2 separate regions of the Homo sapiens genome follow, and region 2 is linked to region 1. A link means that fine-mapping ties the variant in region 1 to the expression of a gene that starts in the linked region. Tissue or cell type: whole blood. Region 1 holds a variant in brackets; the other region holds the start of a gene. All regions are shown on one strand. Distances are from middle to middle.

Evidence for each region. PIP is the estimated chance that this variant, and not a neighbour inherited with it, causes the effect.
Region 2: MEAK7 starts here. The variant in region 1 is fine-mapped to the expression of MEAK7 in whole blood (INTERVAL, PIP 0.99).

Annotation. Positions count from the first base shown.
Region 1 is chr16:84,438,535-84,444,195 of GRCh38, reverse strand. ATP2C2 (ATPase secretory pathway Ca2+ transporting 2) reads right to left here. Exons shown (of 27, transcript NM_014861.4): 12 at 4,906-5,030; 13 at 4,672-4,769; 14 at 3,238-3,339; 15 at 1,597-1,686. Among named protein-coding and RNA genes, the nearest start is that of ATP2C2-AS1, 26 kb to the left of the region's middle. The variant G/T (reference allele first, on the strand shown) is at 3,188.
Region 2 is chr16:84,502,645-84,507,644 of GRCh38, reverse strand. MEAK7 (MTOR associated protein MEAK7) reads left to right here and starts at 2,986. Exons shown (of 8, transcript NM_020947.4): 1 at 2,986-3,044. LOC124903736 (a long non-coding RNA gene) reads right to left here and starts at 2,843. Exons shown (of 2, transcript XR_007065149.1): 1 at 2,710-2,843; 2 at 1-299. RefSeq lists enhancers at 1-398, 2,526-2,645, 2,008-2,955, 3,076-3,576 and silencers at 671-907, 891-1,010, 3,196-3,245.

The DNA.
Region 1 (5,661 bases):
CAATCTTTTTGTTTTTTTTTTTTTTTTTTTTTTGAGGCAGGATCTCTCTCATCTAGACTGGAGTGCAGTGGTGTGATCATAGCTCATTGCAGCCTCAGACTCCTGGGCTCAAGGGATCCTCCTGCCTCAGCCTCCTGAGTAGCTGGGACCACAGGCATGCACCACCATGCCCAGCTAATTTTTATATTTTTTGTAGAGATGGGTTTTCGCTATGTTGCCCAGGCTGGTCTCAAACTCTTGGCCTCAAATGATCCTCCCGCCTTAGCCTCTTAAAGTGCTGGGATTTGAGCCACTGCACTCAGCCTGTAATGACTTTCCAATGTTCTTACACTGGGGAAAAGCACCTGATCTACCAACACGGGGGCTTATGAGAGGGCGACCACCTCTCCCCCGCCCAGCACCAGCTTTGGGAAGGCAGTGGTGTGGGAGGTTGGAGTCTTGCACTGGAGGGAGGGACAGGTAAGCTGATAACAGAAGGCAGTGAAGTGAGCCCTGGTGCTCAGTGATGGGACAGGTAAGCTGAAAATACAAGGCAGTGAAGTGAGCCCGGGATGAGGAGAGGTGTCTGCTGGGGTGGAAACTGGAGTGAACTTGAAGAGAAAGTCGGCACTCGCCAGTGAGAACAGGCAGGAGTGGTCAAAGTCCAGGAGGAAGCAGGAAGGGAGGGTGAGTGCAGGGGCCAGGCTCGGCGGCAGCGAGGGGTCCGTGCTGGGGGATGAGCACCCTGAGTCGGGCTTTTCCCTTGACCTTGATGGAGAGGGTTCTGATCACACCCGAGTCAGAGACAAGTCACACAGCAGAAAGCACGGAGCGGGTCGGGGAAAGGAGCTCCCACAGTGTCCAGGGGAGCCCCAGCTCTGGCTGAAGAGGAGGGACCCAGGCCAAGTGGCCATGGAAACAGACGTGGGAGCTGACCGGGGCCACCTTCTTCCTTCCTTTGCTCCCTCCTCTTAACCTCTGCCGGCCCCTCCTTTCCCATGTCCTTTGTCCTCTCTTCTCCTTGCTTTCCTGTCACCTGCATTCCCAGCCCATGTTTTCTGCCTCTCCTTCTTCTAACTTGTCCTCTGAGCACAGAATGCAGCAGGCCCCCATCAGCTCCCACCCATCCCCTCCACACTGCAAGCAGCCACTTGGTACCTGGTGCTGGGTACAGAATGGCCTGGGGCAACCCTGCACAGCCACAGAGCTCAGGGTCTAACACTGAACCCCGGAGTCAATCGAATACATTCCCAGGAACCAGCCCCTCCCAGTGGTGCCTCGGTGAGCACAGGGTCGTGTTGGGTGCATAGGGAGTCTCGTTCCACTGTCTGTCGCCTCAACACCTGACCAGGGCCTGAACCACAGGGAAGCTCATAGGATTCTTTTGGAATCGCTGGTGGAGGGATTAGAGACCTGCAGAACTTGCTGAAGTCCCGTGGAATCTCAGAGCTCACCTCCTCCACCACCAACAGATGGCCCAAGGCCAGTGTGGGCCATTTTCTTCCATGATTACCTAACGTCCCCACTCCTGTTAGCTCAGACAGGAGCTGGCTTTCTACCAATGAATCCAGCCCCGAGCGAAAGAATTCCCCGCAGAGCCACCCCAGGACCTCCTACCTTCATCGCCAGGGCCATCAATGCACCCTCGGTGGGCTGCCCCATCACGGCGTTCTTTCTGATGACCGCATTGTTGGCAACACAGCCCGCCTAAAAGGGGATTGTCCGGACATCTGTAGTTAGTACTGGGCTCATGAAAAAGTTAGACATTGTGGGCCTGTCCCATTTTTACAGCTGGGGTTGTGGGGACAAGACTTGCTCTTTAAAACAACTCAGCGTCCCGGCTTTTTAAAAGAAACATCGTGACTATTTCTTGGCTGTGCTGAATGTTGGTTCCCATAAAGTTATCATGAGGGAACCCAGCAGGGAGGCAGGTGCACGGGTGGTGACGAGTGTGGGGTAACGGGGAGCGACCGATAATGGGGATGATGGCATTTCCACTTGGGGTGACAAAGTATTCTAGACAGTGGTGAAGTTTGCACAACTTGTGAACAAATTGAAACCACTGAATTGTGCACTTTAACGGGGTGAATTCATGGTAGATGACTTCTACCTCAATTTATACATAAATATTTAAAAAATGAAAAAGAGACAAGCAAAAAGAGTGGGATTCCCAGCGCTCTTCCTTCCCGGCCTGGTGAGCCTGGACACTCGCATTACTTCTCTGCCCATTTCTTTTCTTTTCTTTTTTATTATTACTAGTTTTGCATATTTTTGTTTCATTCATTCATTCATTCGAGATGGAGTCTCATTCTATTACCCAGGGTGGAGTGCAGTGGCATGACCTCAGCTCACTGCAACCTCTGCCTCCCTGGTTCAAGGCAATTCTCCTGTCTCAGGCTCCTGAGTAGCTGGGACTACAGGTGTGTGCCACCATGCCCAGCTAATTTTTATATTTTTTAGTAGAGATGGGGTTTCACCACGTGGGCCAGGCTGGTCTTGAACTCCTGAACTCAGGTGATCCACCCGCCTTGGCCTCCCAAAGTGCTGGGATTATAGGCATGAGCCACCACGCCTGGTCATATTTTTGATTTTTAATCTGCAAAACCAAGACAGCGTTTGCTGTGATAGTGAAGTGGCCCCTGGAGGCAGGTCCTTTGCAAGTGGCGCTCACTGAACTGTACAGAGGAAGAAGGGTGCCTGCTACATGGGGAGGAGGGAGCCCCTGTGAAAGGGTGAGTACAGCTCGGACCGCAGGACTCATCACAGCAACAGGGGAACATCATCACAGGCTCACTAATAACAATAGGGGAAATTCATCACAGGCTCACTTTTTACCATTCATCGGGCACGTCTCTGGGCAGGAGTCTCCTTAGAGCCTTCCCAGTGGGCAGTGATGAGTACAGAGGCTTCTAGCTCTTCTTTTTAAATAATTTTTTTAAAAAAAATAATAGAAACAGGGTCTCACTACGTTGCTCAGGCTGGTCTCGAACTCCTGGCCTCAAGTGATTCTCCTGCCTTGGCCTCCCAAAGTGCTGGGATAACGGGCATTAGCCACTGTGCCCAGCCTAGCTGTCGTCTTACTTCTGATGTCTCCATCACTTTTGAGGCCATTTTTTCAGTGCTGTGCCAGCCTCACCCCTGGATGGGCCAGTCATTGTCAAGAACCAGTAGGTTCAATGGCTGTTTCCCTTTTCAGAGAGGAGCCCCA[G/T]AAGCCTCAATGTAAATGCCTATTTCCCTCATGGCGCTTTTGACACCTACCTCCACTAACTTTCCCACTGAGACATTGGAAAATTCCTTAATGACTTCCTTGGATGGTAGAAGACACACAGTCCCTTGACCGTCATACCCAACTCCGCTGACCTGCAGGGCGAGGCAGAAGAAAGGGTTTCGCCAAGAGTCAAAAACATGCTCCCCCAGTTGGCCCACAATCTCTGTCCTGGGGATCCATTCCAGGGACACAATCCTAAACGTGGACAGGGCTTTCAGTATGAAGATGTTCTCTGAAAGATTATTGATTAATTGGATACGTCATGGATGGACACAGTACCAGGCATGAGTAAGTTGCAGCAAGTTGACTCAGTGGGATACTCTGCAGCCAGTACAAGTGATGGTTAAGAAAACTAAGAACTAGCATAGAAGAGTGCTTCTATTCCAAGAACAGCGCTGGGTAAACGTGTTAGCCTTTGCAGCCCATACCACCTTTGTCGTGGCTACTCAGCTCTGCCGTTGCGGCACACTGAGGCATGAAAGCAGCCATTGGCAATATGTACACAAATGGGTGTGGTGGTACACCAAGGAAACTTTATTTTCAAACAAGCACTGGCCCATGGACCATCACCTGTTCACCCCTTGGTTTGGCCAGTTTTGTAGAAAAAATATCAGGATAAAAAAATTGCACATTCAGAGAGCTTCCAATTACGCCAAGCACGCAGAGGACACTGAAAAACACGCAAGGACTTGGGAGGCTGAGGTGGGAGGATCCCTTGAGCCCAGAAGTTAGAGGCTGCAGTGAGCCATGATTGCACCACTGCACTGCAACCTGGGCGACACAGCAAGACCCTGGCTTAAAAAATAAAACAGGCTGGGCGTGGTGGCTCACGCCTGTAATCCCAGCACTCTGGGAGGCCAAGGCGGGCGGATCACCTGAGGTCAGGAGTTTGAGACCAGCCTGGCCAACATATAGTGATACCCCGTCTCTACTAGAAAATACAAAAATAAGCTCGGCGTATTAGGGCATGCCTGTAGTCCCAGCTACTTGGGAAGCTGAGGCAGGAGAGTCGCTTGAACCCGAGAAGTGAAGGTTACAGTGAGCAGAGATCAGCCACTGCATTCCAGCCTGGGTGACGGAGCAAGACTCTGTCTCTCACAAACAAACAAACAAACCACAAATGGACTAATCACGGTTAGTTTATCGTGGAAGGTATGGAAGATTTTTTCTAGCTTTTAAATTTTGCAATGTGCTTATAATTAATAAGTAACTAAAAAAGGAGGCTACCTTAAATTGGTCATATCTATTAAAAGGAAGTATGGGATGATTAAAAACAAAATCAGTCATGTTAGCAAGGAGATTATAAGATGACCCCAATTTATTTCTTCCTTATTGTGTTCTAGAAGACATTGTGTGCTTAGTTTAGAAAGGAGACAGCCTGGCTGGGTGCATCCTTAAGGCTTGTAAATTCCTTTGGCACTCACCTCGGCACGAAGCCCATCTGACGTTACAAGCTGGGTCACTGTCATTTCATTGGCAGTCAGAGTCCCCGTCTTGTCAGAACAGAGAACGCTGCAGCAACCTGGTACAACAAACACCAGTTTATAGAAGAGAAGTTGCCATCCTCAGGCTTGTGAAACCCCCAGGCTGGATTGCCCTGACAGCCAAGCCCCCATTCAATTCCACGTGTAAGGATTCCACCAGCTGGAGTCCCTCACCTAAAGTCTCCACGATGGGTAACTTCTTCACGATGACCCGCTTCTTGGCCATCCGCAGCACTCCCAGGACCAGCGTCACCATGACGACGATGGGCAGACCCTCTGGAATGGCCGCCACAGCCAGGCTGGATCGAAAGGTCAAATGAGTCCCCTCTAACACATTTAAGGAGTGTGTGACTCTCAGCTGGGGCTGGCAATGCTTTTGGCTGGTGAAGCTTGTCTTAGGTGTCCCCAGTGTCCTGGTTCTAGTCTCCATTCCCAATCCTAAGGTGCACCTGCCTCCTTCTGCAGCACCCACTGTCCTGAGCCCTCCCCTGCAGACCCCGCTCTTGGGAAGGGACCTCTCCTGTCAGTCATCCACACCTTAATGTGAATTAGTCTGTCAGCTGTTTTGCCTCTTTAAAAGTATTTTGCATTGACATTATTCTCATTTATTAGAGAGAAAAGGCTTTGGGTTCCATAAAAGGAATTCCCAAAATCAGACAGTAAGTGGGATTAAGAGTTTTTGGTTCCAGGGGTCCTCGTGAGTCCCTTGAATTTCACTTTTCATGAGTGTAGTGGTGTAGACACTTCCTATGAGGAAGCCAGACAAGGAAGTCCAGGTCAGGGCAGGTGAAGGGCCACAGCGACACACTTGCCTGCTGCGTGGATCTGTTTCGGGGTGTCTGCTCACTTCTTTCTTACCCCTCCAACTCTCCCTGTACGGTGCGACCCCACTCTCTCATAACCAGGGTTGGCTGGATTCGAGGAGAGCGT
Region 2 (5,000 bases), 64 kb before region 1:
TTTGAATTGTTGCATGTGGTCCGGCAAGCACTGCACAATAGAATAACTGCCTGCCACATGTGGCCATTCAAACTGAAAATGAGAATAAATTCAATAAAATGAACTCGACTTCCTCTACTGCACAAGTCAGCCGTGGCTTCCGGCTCCATGCTGGCGGCACAGATGGATCGTTGCCCGCCTCACCGAGTGCTGCTGGAGGCTGCTGGTGGTGCCTCCTCAGGGCACGGCTGCTCCTGCGTTTGCTGCTTGGTGGTGGCCTCCTAACAGCCTGGCCCAGAAGGTGGTCCATGCAGCCCAAACTTGGGTTCCAGAGATGGGGAGTCGGGGGCAAGGAGCACATGGGGAAGAGAGAGTGGATGCTCAGCCACAATGGGGGCCCGGTGGTGGCTCAGCCTTTCTGTGGAGGTGTCAAAGCTGGACATGGAAAATTGGGCAGGGATGTCGCTAGCAGAGGCACCGCTGTGGATGGCAGGACCAGCCTGGTCAGGACCTCTGGGAGCCAAGGAGAGTTCAGTGCCCAAAGTCAGCATAAAAAACAGAAGCTGGTGCCCCGGGGGCAGTTGGACAGCCCATGGACATCCCCGGGAGCACCAGCTTGTTGAAATAGCATGATGTATATTTTTAAAAGAGTCTCACTTTATATGCAAAATGTCAAGCAATATAAATCTCTTATTTAAAAAAATTGAGAATACCAGGGGCGGTGGCTCATGCCTGTAATCCCAGCATTTTGGGAGGCCGAGGTGGGTGGATTACCTAAGGTCAGGAGTTCGAGACCAGCCTGGCCAACGTGGTGAAACCCCGTCTCTACTAAAAATATAAAAATTAACTGGGTGTGGTGGCCTATGCCTGTAATCCCAGCTACTCGGGAGGCTGAGGCAGGAGAATTGCTTGAACCTGGGAGGTGGAGGCTGCAGTGAGCCGAGATTGCGCCATTGCACTCCAGCCTGGGCAACAAGAGTGAAACTCCATCAAAAACAGAAACTTTCCAACCAGGCAGGTGGGCAGATTGGAGTGTAGGCTGTTTCTGGAGGGTATGGCCACGAGGTGGCGCCACTTCGGTAGCTCTCAAACGGCGCCGCTCCGCATTTGCTTCTGTGGTTTTCTGGGGGATTTTGTTTCACCGTTTTAATAACAAGATCTCACTTTCCTGCCCAGGCTGGAGTGCAGTGGTGCAATCACGGCTCACTGCAGTCTCGCCCTCTGAGGCTCAAGCGATCCTCCTGCCTCGGCTCCCTGAGTAGCTGGGACTACGGGTGTGCCATACCACGCCCGGCCAAGCTTTTCATTTTTTGTAGAGATGGAGTCTCACTATGTTGCCCAGGCTGACACATCGGCTCCGGTTTGCTCCTGCGGACCCCCCAGTACCTGCACCTGAGAGGCCACCATTGCTGTCCACCCTTGGTGTGCCTCAGCCTACAAAAAACTGTTGCTATGTCAAAAATGCCACTACCTCGGATGGCACTGAAAAAGACACACCTGGTTGATGTGTGCAGGAAGTACAGGGGTGTGAAGGCTGGAAACAGGGTCTAGTCCTTCATGTCTAAAGGCCCGTGTGTCTTGGGCATCAGGAGCCCTGGCTGCAGGTGACAGGCACCTACTCTAAGAAGCCGAGGTGAAGAGCTGGGGCTACTCGTGTCATTGGCATCCACAGCTGGGGGTACCCTGGCTGTAGATGCGTTAGTTTGTGGAGCTGCTTCTCCTGGGACATTGGCCTTGGATCTCAGAGCAATGTCTTGGTGAGGGGCCCTACCTTGTGCACTGTCACCAGCCAGGCCTGCTGCCCTCAGGCAGAAAGCCTTCTATTTTTGTTCCAGCTTAAAGAATAAGAGGTGACCAGCCGGGTGCAGTGGCTAACCCCTACAATTCTAGCACTGTGGGAGGCCGAGGCAGGCAGATCACCTGAGGTCAGGAGTTCGAGACCAACTCAAGCGGACGTTGGCGGGCGAAGTCACGGTTTTCCAGGCTGGAAAACCAGCAGGCCGTGCAGGGGAGAGAACTGGTACCATGGACATGCGGGAGCTGAATCTGCAGGAAGGTGGACCCCAGGGAGGATGCGTGGGGTGGAGAGAGTAGGGAGAAGTCGAGAAACTCCAGGGCAGAAGCCAGAAGGGCCCAGGGAAGACCACCAGGGACAGCGAGCGAGCCAGGGCCAGGAATGGGCGCCGGGGTGCCCAAGAGAGAGGTCTGATGAGAGCACGATCACCAAGCGCCAAATGCTGCCTGCGAGGACCCAAAGCGCACCTCGGATGTAGTGAGCAGGCCCCCGGGACCAGGTTTCGGTGGGTTTGAGAAGGAACGAGCTGAAGAAGTGGGGTGACAGGTTCAGACGTCTTGGAGTGAACGGGAACCGGCTGAAGAGGCGCACGTGGGGTGGAGGGAGTCTGTTTAGCCAGGCTGTGGAGCTGGCGCCTGATGGCTGCCGGGAAGGACCTGGTGCCAGGGAAGAGCGAGGCAGGGGCAGCTGGCAGAGGGAGGCCCGAGGGGAGGCGGACCCGAGGCTCTAGGCCAGGACCAGCAGGCCGGGGAGTCAGGGGAGAGTTGCCTGGGGCCCAGGAGGCTGCACTGCAGAGGCCTCTGCATGGGCTCCACATGGGCCACTCTCCTCCCCCGGGTGTCTTCACCCCCAAGCTCAGCCTCTCCCCCAGGATCTCCCACACCCTGGCTACTCCGCTCCAGCGCCCAGCCCAGACACCCCTTCTCCCCAGGTACCACTGCTGGCCTGGCCTGGCCTGAGTCATTGGCCGCCCTCTCCAGGCGCCTCCTTGGTACGCACGCAGCCGGGCCGGATTCCCGGGCCTGCAGCCGCTCCTCCCGCAGACCGCGGCCCCGCCCCGAGCCGCACCCACCGGGTTCGGCTCACTCCCTGTGAGGCGCGTCACCATTGGCTGACTCCTCTCTTGGGTTCCGCCCCACACCTCCGCTTCCACGATTGGACCAAATGACTGCCCCTCAGCAATGTTGCCTGGCAACAGGGAAGGGGCGGCTCTCGAGAGGAGCCCGTGGGCTGCTGGACCGGACCGGACAGCACCAGGAAGCCCGGCAGGGTAGGTACCTGGGCTGAGGTTCGCAGTGAGCTGACCCAGAGGCGCAGGCCCAGCTGAGTCGGGGGACTGGAGCAGACGGGTCCAGAGTAGGCCTGGGCCCTGCCCCTCCCTGGCCTCCCACGCCTCTTCAGGCCCTCGGGTCGGGGGAGGGAGAGGTGAAGGCTGCGGGGAGGTGAGGGGTGGGGACAGCGGGGCGGGATGGAGGGAGGGTCTCCTGGGGGGGATCAGAATCATCCTGCACCTCCCGCTGTTTATGTGGTCAAGGTAAGAGGGTGGCGAGGTGCTTCCCCCAGGGCCAAGGCCAGCCGTGTTGAAGGGGGATTCAGAGCCTGTGTAGACGCGGAAAGGGAGGGGTGCCTCCACGGAGGAGGCGAGTCTGGGGTAGACACTGAAGTGTGTGTGGAGGGGGTTTTCCTTCTTGTATTCTGACCACACCCATCTGGGCTTTTCCAGGACAGTGAGCTGATAACTGTTCCCAGGCCATGTAGGTGGCCAGCACAGGACAGGTCACCTTCTGGCCCACAGGAACTTCTTGCCCAGGCTCAAGCTGCCCCTTCGCACAAGGGCCTCTGGGCTCTGAGACACAGACAGGACTTCGAAGCCTGTCCAGATGAGGCAGTTGGAATCTCCCCAGCTTGTGGGGGTACGGAGGGACCCTTGTGTGGCTCTAGGGATGCGGGGCCCTTGGAGTAGAGAGTTGGAGCTTGGCAGCCAGGGTGGGAAGCAGCCATGTAACAGCCTGTTGGAGAAGCTCTGAGCAGGAGGTGACTAAGCCATTCCTAGGATACTAGTGGGAACCTTGGGGGCCATCCTGCAGACAATCGGTCCCTGTCCACCCCTCCATCACGGAGGCAGAGCAACCTTCCGTTTCTTCCAAGCAGGGCAGTTTCTCTTGTTCTAAGACAAGATCCCAAGGAGCCATTCTCTGTTGTCTTGGGCCCATTATTCTGTCTCTGACCTCCAGTAAGCAGATCAAATGCCCTGGGTTACCTTATTTAATCTTCTCAACCTTATGTTAAAGAAATTAATTAATGATGCTTATTAAAAGCACATTAATTATTGAAGACCATTGCAATGGGTATAGGGACCACAGCAATGGGATTTTGTAGTAAAGGAGAGAGATTGGGCTCAACTCTGATTATAGCATGGGCAAGTGGGAAGCCAGGAAGCAGGGTGGGGATCAGTGGATGGAAGATGACTGAGGAAACATCAGGGCGCTAGGGTGGATTCTGGGTAAGCTTACCTAGCAGTTTGTTACTGAAGGCAGGCCAGGGTGATCAGACATCACCTAGGGCAAGCTCGTCCAACCCGTGGGCCATATGTGGCCTAAGGCGGCTTTGAATGACATCCAACACAAATTCATAAGCTTTCTTAAAACATGAGATTTTTTTTTTACCATATATGTAGATATATGCACTTATCAGTTATTGTTAGTGGGTTTTATGTGTGGCCCAAGACAGTTCTTCCAGTGTGGCCCAGGGAAACTGAAAGATTGGATATCCCTAACCTAAGCATTAAACCTGGTTAGATAGCAAGTGAACAGATAATGGTGATCAAATATCAAGGATGAGTGGTTTTGTGGGTTTTTTTGTTTGTTTGTTTTTTGTTTTGCTAAAACCAGATTTTACAAAGAGGTACACAGATGGGCCCAGGAGCCTGACTAAAGTCTGGTCAAGCAAAACATCTTGGTCACTTATTATGGGCTGCTGGAACTTTTGTTTGTGTTTTTATGAGACAGAGTCTTGCTCTGTCACCCAGGCTGGAGTGCACTGTTGTGATCTTGGCTCACTGCGACCTCTGCCTCCTGGTTCAAGCGATCTTCCCACCTCAGCCTCCTGAATAGCTGGAACTATAGTCACACGCCACCACACCCGGCTGAGGTTTGTATTTTTGGCAGAGACGAAGTCTCACTATGTTGCCCAGGCTGGTCTCAAACTCCTGGCCTCAAATGATCCT